Homo sapiens: one gene and its partners. The protein of the gene in region 4 purifies or fractionates together with the protein of the main gene of each other region. This does not show direct contact. Each region holds a gene or a part of one and is shown on either strand. Other genes may lie near its edges.

Region 1 (3,500 bases), on a different chromosome or scaffold from region 4:
GAAACCCCGTCTCTACTAAAAATACAAAAAATTAGCTGGGCATGGTGGCGGGCGCCTGTAGTCCCAGCTATTCTGGAGGCTGAGGCAGGAGAATGGTGTGAACCCGGGAGGTGGAGCTTGCAGTGAGCTGAGATCGCGCCACTGCACTCCAGCCTGGGTGACAGAGCGAAACTCTGTCTCAAAAAAAAAAAAAGTTTGCTGAATAATTTAAAGTTGCTGCTCTGCCCCAAGAGGTCTCCTGCTTGTTCCCACTCTCTGCTGTAGGAAAACTTTTTTTTTTTTTTTGAGTCAGGGTCTTGCTCTGTCACCCAGGCTGGAGTACAGTGCGTGATGTAGGCTCTCTGCAGCCCCAACCTCCCCGGCTCAGGCAATCCTCCTGCCTCAGACTCCCAAATCGCTGAGACCACAGGCACATACCACCACACCTGGCTAATTAAAAAAAAAATTTCGTACAGATGGGGTTTTGCCATCTTGCCCAGGCTCGTCTCGAACTCCTGGCCTCAAGTGATCCCCCCACCTCAGCCTCCCAAAGTTCTGGTGTTAAAGGTGTGAGCCACCGCGCCTGGCCTGCAGGAAGATCTTTACTCCTCAGCGTCTCACTCCAACAGAGATCCGGCTCCCACTCTCAAGCTCTCCCTGTTCCTCTCCCCACCAGGCGGGTATTATCATTCCCATTTTACAGACGGGAAAATCAAGGCTCTATGACACCTCTTTACAGGCGTCATAAGGAACCTGAGGTCCAGGCTGGCTCTCCCGGAAAGCCCAGAGTACCTGGTATTTGTTGGTGGAATTGAAGGGAATCTCAGCCACTTTCTTGTTGCGTTCACGCATCAGCTTCACGGAGCCAGAGGACAGCTCGATGCACTTGAGCAGGGCAGACTCAGACGCATCCCCAGCCACATCCCTCTGCAAGGAGAAAGGGTTGTCAGAACAGGGACAGCTGAGGGGAGGACACAGGCAGGGCCGAGGTGAGGCCAGTAGCTGAACCCACCTTGAGCACAGGGATGTTGTCCTGACCACCCTTGAAGACAGCGCGATTGCAGAGCCCAGCGATGTGAGACAGGGCCACCCAGGTGTGCGAACTCTTGTCAAATGAGGTCCCTGGGGGAGGCATGTGTGAGGGCCAGGGACTCCTGGAGCCAGGCCCCCATGGTCCTCACCCGGGGCCTGCGCTCACCTGACTGGTCCTCAGTGGTGTCAGCCTCGTGGATCTGGTTGTCAAACCACATGTGGGCGACTGTCATGCGGTTCTGAGTGAGGGTCCCTGTCTTATCTGAGCAGATGGTGGACGTGGAGCCCAGGGTTTCTACAGCCTCCAGGTTCTTCACCAGGCAGTTCTTCCGGGCCATGCGCTTGGCGGTCAGCGTCAGACACACCTGGAGGACGAGCAAGGGCAGGCAAGTTACAGGGACAAGCCCGGCAGCAGGGTTGGATGAGCGACACGAGGGCCACAGCCCAGCTGCCCAGCCCCCAGAGAATCCTGAGGGCCTGGAAAAGAATGAGGCAGCACCCAGCAATGCCACCCCCAATTCAGACCAATAGAAACAGGGCAGAGACACCCAAAGACAGGGACTAGAATGCTCATAGCAGCCACATGCATAATAGTGCAAAACAGCCAGGTGCAGTGGCTCACGCCTGTAATCCCAGCACTTTGGGAGGCCGAGGTAGGCGCATCACTTGAGATCAGGAGTTCGAGACCAGCCTGGCTAACATGGTGAAACCCCATCCCTACTAAAAATACAGAAATTAGCAGGGCATGATGGTACACTCCTGTCATCCCAGCTACTTGGGAAGCTGAGGCACGAGAACCCCTTGAACCCAGGAGGTGGAGGTTGCAGTGATCCGAAATCGTGACACTGCACTCCAGCCTGGGCAACAGAGTGAGACTCCAACTCAAAAAAAAAAAAAATTGTCCAAAACTGCAAACTACTCAAATGTCCACTAACAGCAGAAAAGATAAATTGTGGACAATGGAATACTAACATTGATAAAAACAAATACATTACTGCTGCCTGCACCTGCATGGGTGAACGTCAAAAACATGTTCAGCCAAAAAGAGCCAGAAATGAGTTCATACTGAATTATTCCGTTAATAGGAAGTTTGAACACAGGCAAAGTTAATCTATGCTGTTAGCAGCCAGATCAGGGGTTACCCTTGGGTTGGGGGGCAGGGGCTAAATAAGGTCTTGAGGGGGCTTCAGGGAGACGCAGTCTCGTTGCAGCTGACGTGATTCTGTTCAGTTTGCCCCAAATCATCAGACTATGTGCTCACAATATGCTTAATCCTTTGCGTATAAAAATCCATTTGACATAGGGTAGCATTCAACATTGCTAATATGGAAAACAGTAAACTTTTTTTTTTTTTGAGACACAGTCTTGCTCTGTCGTCCAGGCTGGAGTGCAGTGGCTCGATCTCAGCTCACTGCAACCTCCACCTCCCAGGTTCAAGCAATTCTTGTGCCTCAGCCTCCCAAGTAGCTGGGATTACAGGCGCCCACCATCACGCCTGGCTAATTTTTGTATTTTTAGTAGAGATGGGGTTTTGCCATGTTGGCCAGGCTGGTCTTGAACTCCTGACCTCAAGTGATCCACCCACCTCGGATTCCCAAAGTGCTGGGATTACAGGCGTGAGCCACCCTGCCCGGCCCTAATATGGAAAACTTCACATAAAACATTAAGTCAAAGAATGAAAGAGGAGAATGGTATTTCTAAGATAGTCCCTGCCATGCACCTTGAAGACAGCATTTAGTCAATATGCTCACAGCTGTCAGGCGGAACCTCACAGAGAATGGACTTCTGGGGTGAAGCTGGCAGCAAAGCAGCCAGAGAAAAAATTTTTAAAAATAATAATAATAATTATTATTATTATAATAATTATTATTATTATTATTTTCTTGAGATGGAGTCTCCCTCTGTCACACAGGCTAGAGTGCAGTGGTTCAATCATGGCCCACTACAGCCTCAACCTCCCGGGTCAGCCTCCCAAATAGCTGGAACTACAGACATGTACCACCACGCCTGGCTAATTTAAAAAAATTTTTTTTTTTTTTTTTTTTTTTTTGAGACAGAATCTCGCTTTTGTCGCCCAGGCTGGAGTGAGGTGGCACGATCTCGGCTCACTGCAAGCTCTGCCTCCTAGGCTCAAGCTATTCTCCTGTCTCAGCCTCCTGAGTAGCTGGGATTCCAGGCACCCATCACCACGCCTGGCTAATTTTTATACTTTTAGTAGAGATGGGGTTTTGCCATGTTGGCCAGTCTGGTCTCGAACTCCTGACCTCAGGTGATCCACCCGCCTCGGCCTCCCAAAGTCTTGGGACTACAGGCATGAGCCACTGCGCCCAGCCTTCACATTTTTTGGTAGAGATGGGTTCTTACTATGTTGTCCAGGCTTGTCTCAAACTCCTGACCTCAAGCAGTCCTCCTGCCTCAGCCTCCCAAACTGTTGGGATTAAAGGCGTGAGCCACTGCGCCAGGCTTATTATTTTATTTTATTTATTTAT
Region 2 (3,500 bases), on a different chromosome or scaffold from region 4:
CATGGCAACAATATCAGTCTAGAAGTCAGGAAAACCTGGCTTCTCTTCCTACCTCCCTCTGTCCTTGGACCAGTCACGCCTCCCTACCCATCAGTTGATCTTTGTGGTCCCTTCCAGGTGTGATATTTCTGTCATTCCACTGACTCTGGAAACTCTGGCAAGTCACTCAGCCTTGGACCTCAGTTTTCCCATTGTAAAATGATGAGGCTGGATGTGGTCTCCTTTCCAAAAGTCTGTTTCTGCCTTGGAAAGGCATTTTTCTGCCTCTGAAAACAGGAGTTCTAGCATCTGGCCATGAGTGGAGAGAAAGGTGGTCTAAAGATCTGAAGAGTCCCTGTTCAGGCCTCAAAAATGAAAGCCCATTTTTCCCAGCTTCACCTTTGCAGTGTGGAATTCAGCCACCACTCTGCCACTTAGCAGCATCTCTGAGCCTCAGTTTCCTCATGTATAAAAGGGGAACTAAGCTGGGCGCAGTGGCTCACGCCTGTAATCCCAGCACTTTGGGAGGCTGAGGCAGGGTGGATCGCCTGAAGTCAGGAGTTTTGATACCAGCCTGGCCAACATGGTGAAACCCCGTCTCTACTAAAAATACAAAAAATTAGCTGGGCATGGTGGCGGCTGCCTGTAATCCCAGCTACTCTGGAGGCCAAGGCAGGAGGATCGCTTGAACCCAGGAGGCGGAGGTTGCAGTGAGCCAAGATTGCGCCATTGCACTCCAGCCTGGGCAACAAGAGTGAAATTCCGTCTCTAAATAAATAAATAAAAAAAAATAAAATGGGAACTAATAGTATCCAGTTATAGTGCTATTAATGTGATTATTACATAAATAAATGCACATAAAAGTTTGTATACACAGGAAGTGTTCAATGAGTGACAGCTGCCCCTGTTAATATTTTAACCACCTACAGCAAATGCATCCCTACCTCAGCCTCCTACAACCTTCCTCTGAGCTGAAGGATTACAAATCTCTCAAACCTAGGCTGCCACCAATGTCCTTCCTTAGGGTATCAGGGTTTCCATGTGTCCTATACTGTTCACTTGAGCTGGTCATGGCGGGAGGGAAGATGACACCAGCTGCCTTGTAGGGATAAGGGTGGGGGGCTGAGGCCATGCTCCCTCTGCACTCTCAGATACCCAAGAGCCTGGGAGCTGATTTTGGGGTCTTGCCTATTCTCTCAACACCCCTGCGTGGGTAGGAGTTCCGTTGGAGCCCTCATTCTGTCATCTATGGCAGCTGCTTCCCTTGCAGGTTACCCCTCCTATAAGAATAGAAAGTGCTTTGCAGTTCTCCTTCCTACCCTAACCATGGAGCAGAGCCTCGGGTAGACTCTTGCAGAGACTGGGGTGGGAGGAGCAGGGTGGGAGCTGAAGTTCTAGAATAGTTGCTTCTGGGTTCTAGTCTACCTCTGACTCAGTGGGTGACATTAGGTAAGTCACCTTCCCTCTCTGGACCTTTTTTCTCTCCCCAGCAGTCAGGAATTCTTGCTTGTCCTTGGTGGGGAGGGGCCAGTGGTGTGAAGAGGATTTAGGCTATTGGGAAAACTGTGGGAATGACTCCAAGCCTTAGGAGTTAGGTGCATTCCCCACCCCACATTGTGCTGTGGACCCCGCATGAACTCTGCTTTGTTCCATGTTCACCTGACTCCCAGGCTAGTACTTATTCCAGAGGAGAGCCTCACTGTAACTCAGCTCACCACTGGCATCTCCTGCAATTGTTTACCCATGTTCCTGACCCAGAATGCCTGGCAGAGGCCCGGGAGCCCATAAAGCAGGTATTCATCTTGTCTCCTGACCAGGGACACAAAAGGCTTCTTTTGTCCCTTTATATCTTATAGCTTTTTTTGGTTTTGGTCTTTGCAAGGCGAATCCTGCCATCTCCTCTGTAGATTAAGTCTGTGAATAGGGGAGATGGGGTCACTGCCCACTTCACATGCATGGATATCAGACCCAGCAACTGGTTTCCTATAAAAATGACACTAGAAGGTGCCTCTCTCACTTCTCAAAAGAAGAGAAGAACAAATAGCCTAAAGGTCACCTTGAAACTGTCTCAAGAAGCCCAGATAGGACTCTAAAAAGGAAGCGATGACCTTTTTCTCTTTGGGAAAATAGCAGACTGACTGCAGAACAGTGGGAGGGAGGTCAGCTGGGGACTGGGAGGAAGGCTTCAGGTAGGACATGTGTCTCTAGGAGTGCCAAGGCACTTAGAGGGCTTAGTTGGTCAGATTGCCCAGACTTCATTCAGCTGAGCACCCTCGAAGTTTGCCTTTCCTCTCCTTCCAAGCCAGCCCCATGGCGTCCAGCCCTGGTACAAAGGAAAGACGTAGTCAGAAGCCCTGGGTTCTGCTCCTGATGCTGCCTCTCAGTACCTGTGTGACCATGAACCTTGAGGTTCATGCACCTCATTCTCTGAACCTGACTTGCCTCATCCTTAAGACCAACGTAGAGGCTGAACGTGGGAATGCCTGGTAGAGTGCCCAGCTCACTGTAGTAACTTTCAGGGCCGTGCAGATTCTTCCCCTTTTGGGAGGTCTTCCCAGCCCACAGCAGTCACTTTCTCTTTCTCTCCCAAACCCTTTTCCCTTATTGTTTATCCATAACAGTGGCATTAGGCCTTGCCTGCCCTGTGACATCTCCTGTGTTGAACGGGTGTGTGTGTTTTAATAATAGTTGCCACTTAGTATCTACAGAGTAGTGTCAGGCACTTTATAAAAGCAATCTTATTTAATCCCTACTCAAATCACATGAGATAAAAGCTGTCTCTGTTTTGCAGATGAGGAAATGGCTCAGAGAGGTTATCTTCAGTGATGTCAAATTGCTATTTATTGTCTGTTCGAGTCTTGGCATAGCCTGCTAGAGGGGTGCAGCTGCATCTCCTGCCTCTGGCATTCCCGCAGCAGATGCACATGGCCCTGCACTGAGAAGCGCCCAGCTCACTGCACCTGCACTCAGGAATTGTAGGACTCCCTCTAGGAGTTGGGCACATGTCGTTGGTGGGAGCCCTGTCCCTGCCTTGAGAAAGCTGTAGGTGTTCTGTGTCCAGCTGTGCACCTGTCCTTTGTTTTTGTGAGTCTTCTTGGATGCACCTGAATCCTGCATTCAGGAGGCCTATCCCTTGTTCTCTGCTAGCAACCCTGCCTGCTATCTCTCTTCCGGTGCCCTCTCAGCCATCAGACCAGAGCTTGCTTCTTCCCTGCTTGGGCAGGGAAGTGCCAGGTAAAGGGTGGTCTCCTTTAGCCACAAGGGGTGGCTGACCTTATGACCTCCCGCCTCTGAGCAGAAAGGTGACAGGCTGCTTTTGGTTACCCTCAGGGCCCAGCAGAGTCCCCTGAGAGGCAGCCTCTGTTGGGAGCAGGTGGCACAACTTTGTTTAGCTCTACAAGGCAGGAGGAGTTTAATAGTACTTCTCATTAGCACTGAAATTTGTTTCCAAAGCACTTGTGTGTACAATATTTAATTTAGATCTTCTCAGTGGTCCTGTGGGTTAGAATAGCATGTGGTAT
Region 3 (2,182 bases), on a different chromosome or scaffold from region 4:
CCTCCAGACTTCTTCTGCACAAGAAAGAAATACACTTCTATCTTGTTTAAGCCACTGATATTTTAGGGTTTTAATTCTATGCAGCTAAATCTAAATCTAAATGATACACACAAATCTTTACCTTCTGCTACACTGTGGTAGTCCAGCTTCCTAAATGTCTCACTCCATCCCTGTCTATTATCTTGGTGGATTTGGTTACCCCGAGGTTCTTTATTCTCCCTGACACATTTAGTCACATACTCCCCTCAGTTCCAGGCACCAGTAACACTTCCAGGCTCCCAAAACGACACACAGCAGAGTTCCATTGTCCTAAATAAATGGTGATTTTAGGGCAGGGAATCAAAAAGAGTTTGTCCATTGGGTGAACTGCTTTGGCACAATTGCTTGTCTGCTCCATGCCCTCCTGGAACCCTCAAGATGGTAAAACTGATCAGTATGGACTCTGATTTCCCAGAAGAACTGCGGAGAGTAGGGGGTAATTTAAAGAAATAATCTGCTGGAATTTTAAGATGATATATAGGCTACTGGGGCCAGAGGAGGGAGTAAGTTGTTGGGAGTTTAGACCGTGGAGGTTTCTACTTCTTGGATGGGGTCCTTGTTGGAGAGAGTGCTTGAGATATTGTCGGATTCAAGCAACTCCACAATGCTGTAGGGAGAACAGTCCTCCAGACCCAGCTTGCTGCAGAGCCAGCCACAGAAGCCTTTCTCCATGTCCCGGGCAGCTTGCCACCATGCTTCCCAGGACCACGAGAGCTGGACCACAGCAGCGTAGAGGCCGAGGGAAGAAGCCATGGCCATGATGAGCACTGGATAGAAGAGAACGAGGCAAGGGCAATACGAGATCTTGTGCCAGAAGGTCCTTTCCTCATTATACACGAGGAAGATGTTGTACCAGGTGATAGTGCCGTAGTAGAAAGAGACAACAAAAGAAAGGATGAAAACCACAGGCAGGCAGATCAGCGTCCAGAGGACCACATGGGGCCCACGGTCAGCTCCCATCTGGCAGGCCATTCTTCCTTCAGGCGTCGTTTCCCTTGATGACTCTTTAGGTTTGGTCAGTTCCTGCAGCTCTTTCTCTGTCAATGTGACATGGATGTCCACCATCTGACCCTTTTTCTTCCCTCGTGTGATGGTCCCAGTTAAGGTGACGTAGCGGCTGTCCAGAGGCAGGTTCCACATATCTGCAGGGTACAAAGGAGGTGAGAGTCAAGATCAGAAGAGTGGGCATTGCATCTCCATGTTGCACCCTCCCAGGCTGGGCATGAGGACAAGAGTAGCCTTTTTTACACCATCTGGCACAGTCCTGAGTCAGTGATTCAATGGCGGACTGAGTGGGTCTCCCTCGGGAGAGTGACCACTGGTGTTATTGCTCCCACATGAACTCTCAGTCCTTGTGCCTGGGCCCTGATAAAATTGTGAGGCAGGTTAAGCTTTTCACCTACTCTCTCCGCTTTTTGGGGCCTCAATCTTGGCACAATCTCTGTGGCACGGAGGAGTGTGACGAACTTTGATACAGACATGATGCAAATGATGATCCTATTTCTAGGTAACAAGTGCTGTGAAGATACTGGACTGATGGACGGCCACCACCTTCCCTTCTCATGCCTAGTTCTGTGCTTTCTGAGAGGGGGCCCCTCACATGCCTGATCCAGCCCTCACATCCAGGGGCTGCACGCATACACACATGCATCCCACATATACCATACACATACACCCTCTCACATACTACATACACACCATACACACACATACACATGCCACCTCCCAATCACGTACCACATACACACACTACACTATCCCATACACACACCACACACCACACACCATGCACATCACACATACCACATACACACCACATACCCACACCACATATACCAAACACCATACATAACACATACACCACACACATGCCACACACAACCTCCCCACACATACCACATACAACACATACACATACCATATACACACCACATACCCATACATATCACACATACATGCAACATACACACATAACACACCACACACACACATACACATCACACACACCACACATACACACAGCATACATGCACACAAATGCTGCCCCCCACACATTCCACATATATACACTACACATACCCACCCACATGCCGTATGCACACACCACATATATACACATTCTACACACACACCACATACCCAT
Region 4 (3,500 bases):
AGGGTCTCTGCAGAGCTTTCTTCCTCCTCCTCTCTCACCAGAAAGAAGTAGTGGACCCCGCCCCCTGCACCACAGTCCCAACACCCGGTGCAGGTTTCACATTGCACTGCAGGTGTTTTGTGCCGCATCTGTCTCCCCCACCACACTGGGAGCTCCTGGAGATCAGACACAAGTCCATCAGCTCCAAGTCCACAGCACTGAGCCCGGGGCCTGACATATGGTAGGTGCTTAGAAGGCTTTTTAGTGAGATTGAAGTATCTTCTAAGAATTCTCTTTTACCATGATGCATTCATCCATCCATCCTTCCTTCCATACATCTTTCCTTCGATCCATCCATCCATTCATCCATCTATTCAAAAATTCAAAAATATTTGCTGAGTATCTATTAAGGGCCAAGACCCACCCAGTGCTGCAAATATAATGAACAAAACAGACACAAAACTATCTCTTCCCCTTTACTCATGCTCTTTCCCGTGCCTACAATGCCTGCTCCTTATTCTCTCATCACTCTAGATCTCCCTGTCCTTCAGGCCCTTGTAGAGTCTACCTCCTCTAGGAAGCCCTCTCAGCCCTCCCCTTTATCTGAAATTATTCAACCACATCCAACCTAGAGTTGACTCATAATGGAGTTCTGCCCTGGGTGCTTCCTGAATCATCTCATTATGTGCAGAACTCGGATTAGGCACAAGGCTCCAGGCTGTCTCTCCAGCCAGATCTCAGTGTTTCACAGACAGAGATATGACTCTCCTGGCTTCTGACTCAGTTCTGCTTTGTTAAGTCCCTACTATTCACACAGCCCAGTGCCGCGGGTATCCTGGGTGCCAGTCAAGGGCCCAGTCCAGCTTTTGCCTAGGGAGGGAGGACTAAGCAGTCACTCAGCAAACATTTTCTGAGCATCTATTCTGTGCTGGGCCCTACATCAAGCACGGCCATGTATCTGGGACCACAGATACGGGGGAGTAGGGCTGTCTTGGGTGCTGAGGAAGAGCTCATCCCAGGCCTGCCCCTTTACCTTGGAGCCTGCTCCTGTCCTACGGCTGAAGCTTCTCACCAGCTGCACAGGGTACCAAAGGCTCAGGAATCCGAGGCCCAGCAGGAGAGGCAGGGAGGCCAGCAGGGAGTAGTACTTGTAGATCTGGACAGACAAACACCCAGACAGACTACTTTCCACCTTCTTCCCCCAGCCAAGAACCAGAATCCGTTGCCCTTCCCACCTCACACTGGGCCCTGAGGGTGGTCTGGGGGGCCATGGGAAGGCTTCAGCTCTATGGTTCCCAACCTGCCACCCAGCGCAAACCTGCCCACTTCCCCTTCTCGAGCCCTGCAGAGATGCTCACCCCTCCCCCAGGCTCCTGGATCCCCACGGGCCTGAGAGGAGCCAAGAGGAGGAGATCACTTGATTCCCTCCTGCCCCCCACTGGAAAGGACACCTCTTTCTGTTTCTGTGTTCCCGGAGCATTAGGAACAGTTCTGAAAATCACACGAAAGCCTGCCTTTGCCTACATATAGTTTTCAACCTGAGCATCAGGAAAGTCTATGCCCTACTCCTCAGGGCTGAGGCCTTCCTGGGGGTGGGCTTTTTGTATACTCATTCATTTATTTGTTGGTTCAATATACTTTTATTGAGAGCTTAGTATGTGCCAGGTTCTAGGTGGTGAAAAAAAGCCACCAAGTTCCCCCTCTCAAAGCAACCTCTTAGTCTTCACCTCCACCCTGAGGGACTGGTGTTATCAGCTCCATGGACGGATGGAGAAACGGTCTCAGAAAGGTGGCACTGTTTCCCCAAGGCACTTGGTACCACCTGGCATCATTTTGTTTGCGTGTCATGTCTGCCCTTCTGAAGTGACGGCTCTTGGGAGGCTAGGGACTGTTTGTCTTGTTCATAGCTGTAGTCCAGTGCCTGGAAATGTCCCTGGTACAAAGTATGTGCTTCAAATATGTTGTTGAATGAATGGGTGAGTGAATGAATGAAGTGGTGAAGCTGGATTCACACTCAGGTTGTCTGGCTCTAAAGCCTGTACCATCACTCTTTGAGTTCTAGACTGGACAGCTTCACAGCCCCAGCCAGCAGCCAGTGAGCAAGGTCCTGAGGTTCCGGAATTCTCCTCTCAGCCCTCTTAGACCATCCCTGACTTCGCACTTGCCGGCCTCCATCAAGCTTCACTCCCATTCCCTCTCCAGCCTGACCAAAGGGAAGCTGGGGGATCACTAACACAGGCATTGGGGGTGGGGGCCATTTCAGGCTTTCTCTTCCCCCTACTCTGCCCACTTCCCCTTCTCCGCCACCTCCTAGACTTAAAGTTCCTGAGGGCTGGGCCCAGCCACCTTGTTCCCTGCCTCTCCTGCAGAGCAGCCAAGCTTGGAAGGGGCACATGTTTGAAGGCATGGAATCCCATGCACAATGGAAGGCTGCAGGGCGGCCCATCATAGAATCAGAGCTCAAAGGAGGCACTGTGGTTTGAGTAGGTTGCTCTGTGCGCCCCTCTGCCCTAGGCCATTGTGATCAGCGGTTACCTTGGGCACCTGGGGACACTCTGCCCTCTGCCAGACCTGGACCCCAAGGTGGGCCCAGGACAGCGTGCTGCCGAGCAGGTGTGCAGCTGTGTGGCCAGCCGTGGCACAGGCAGCCAGAGGGTAGTAGAGGGCAGCATAATAGAACAGTCCCAGTATCTTCCAGGCCCCTGGAAGGTGAAACAAGCAGAGAGACCCATGCTGGAGGGGCAGACATGGGGCCTGCAGTGAGCCCACCCAGGCCTCTCTTCGGTCTCCAGCTTCCAAGCCCTTCAGCACGTTCAGTGGGCAAGAACACTAGGTTCAAATCCAGGCTCTGACTAGTCTCAACTCTGTGATCTTGGGCAAGTTACCTCTTGGAGCCTCAGTTTTCCCATCTGTAAAATGAAAATAATCACAGTATATTAGCAAGGGCAAAATGAGAAGGTGGATATATAATGCTTAGCATGGTGCCTGAGCAAATACTCAATTTAAGATACTACTTCCCTGGCTCTCAGTTCCTCCATTGCAAAATGGGGCTAATATGCATACTTTGTAGCATCGTTGTAAAGACTGGATGGTCTAAAAAGGTCACGTCTCAGGATAGCAGCCCATCTCATTGACAGCTGTTCCTGTTACTCTCATCTCCTTGAGCCAAGCTTAAAACTCCGAGACCCCACCCTACCCCATCCCATCACACCAACCCCAGGGCCTGGGGGTCAGTGGGTACCTTGGCTGGGTGCTGAGGCGAGAGTCAGGAAGGGCAATGCGTCCTCGTCGGGGAGCAGCAAACACAGGGAGCTCAGGAGGACCATGAAAACAGCAGCAGGCACTGCCCGGGGCCTGTCCCCAGCCAAGAAATCCACAGGGCTAGCACAGAGGCAAGGACAGGGCAGGAGGGAGTTGCTCAGCCCCTGCACCCCCATTACCTCCCAGCTGTATTCCATAAATCAAGGAGGTGGAGTCAGTCCCACTTTCTAGATGGGGGAATAAGGCCCCTTCATTCATTC

The links. The genes of interacting proteins can lie anywhere in the genome.
Region 1: the proteins of STRA6 (region 4) and ATP1A3 purify together in Homo sapiens (co-immunoprecipitation; one large-scale study listed by IntAct). This does not show direct contact.
Region 2: the proteins of STRA6 (region 4) and SLC9A1 purify together in Homo sapiens (affinity purification with mass spectrometry; one large-scale study listed by BioGRID and IntAct). This does not show direct contact.
Region 3: the proteins of STRA6 (region 4) and TMEM169 purify together in Homo sapiens (co-immunoprecipitation; one large-scale study listed by IntAct). This does not show direct contact.

What each region holds. Positions count from the first base shown.
Region 1 is NC_000019.10:41,980,731-41,984,230, forward strand, and holds part of ATP1A3 (sodium/potassium-transporting ATPase subunit alpha-3), read right to left. Parts: intron 1,377-3,500; coding exon 1,178-1,376; intron 1,102-1,177; coding exon 992-1,101; intron 907-991; coding exon 772-906; intron 1-771. UniProt on the Homo sapiens protein: This is the catalytic component of the active enzyme, which catalyzes the hydrolysis of ATP coupled with the exchange of sodium and potassium ions across the plasma membrane.
Region 2 is NC_000001.11:27,148,626-27,152,125, reverse strand, and holds part of SLC9A1 (sodium/hydrogen exchanger 1), read left to right. Parts: intron 1-3,500. UniProt on the Homo sapiens protein: Electroneutral Na(+) /H(+) antiporter that extrudes Na(+) in exchange for external protons driven by the inward sodium ion chemical gradient, protecting cells from acidification that occurs from metabolism.
Region 3 is NC_000002.12:216,098,919-216,101,100, reverse strand, and holds part of TMEM169 (transmembrane protein 169), read right to left. Parts: intron 1,182-2,182; coding exon 559-1,181; 3' UTR 1-558.
Region 4 is NC_000015.10:74,192,788-74,196,287, forward strand, and holds part of STRA6 (receptor for retinol uptake STRA6), read right to left. Parts: intron 3,361-3,500; coding exon 3,221-3,360; intron 2,889-3,220; coding exon 2,865-2,888; coding exon of another isoform or gene 2,815-2,864; exon of another isoform or gene 2,682-2,814; coding exon 2,515-2,681; exon of another isoform or gene 1,600-2,514; intron 1,136-1,599; coding exon 1,013-1,135; intron 1-1,012. UniProt on the Homo sapiens protein: Functions as a retinol transporter. Accepts all-trans retinol from the extracellular retinol-binding protein RBP4, facilitates retinol transport across the cell membrane, and then transfers retinol to the cytoplasmic retinol-binding protein RBP1.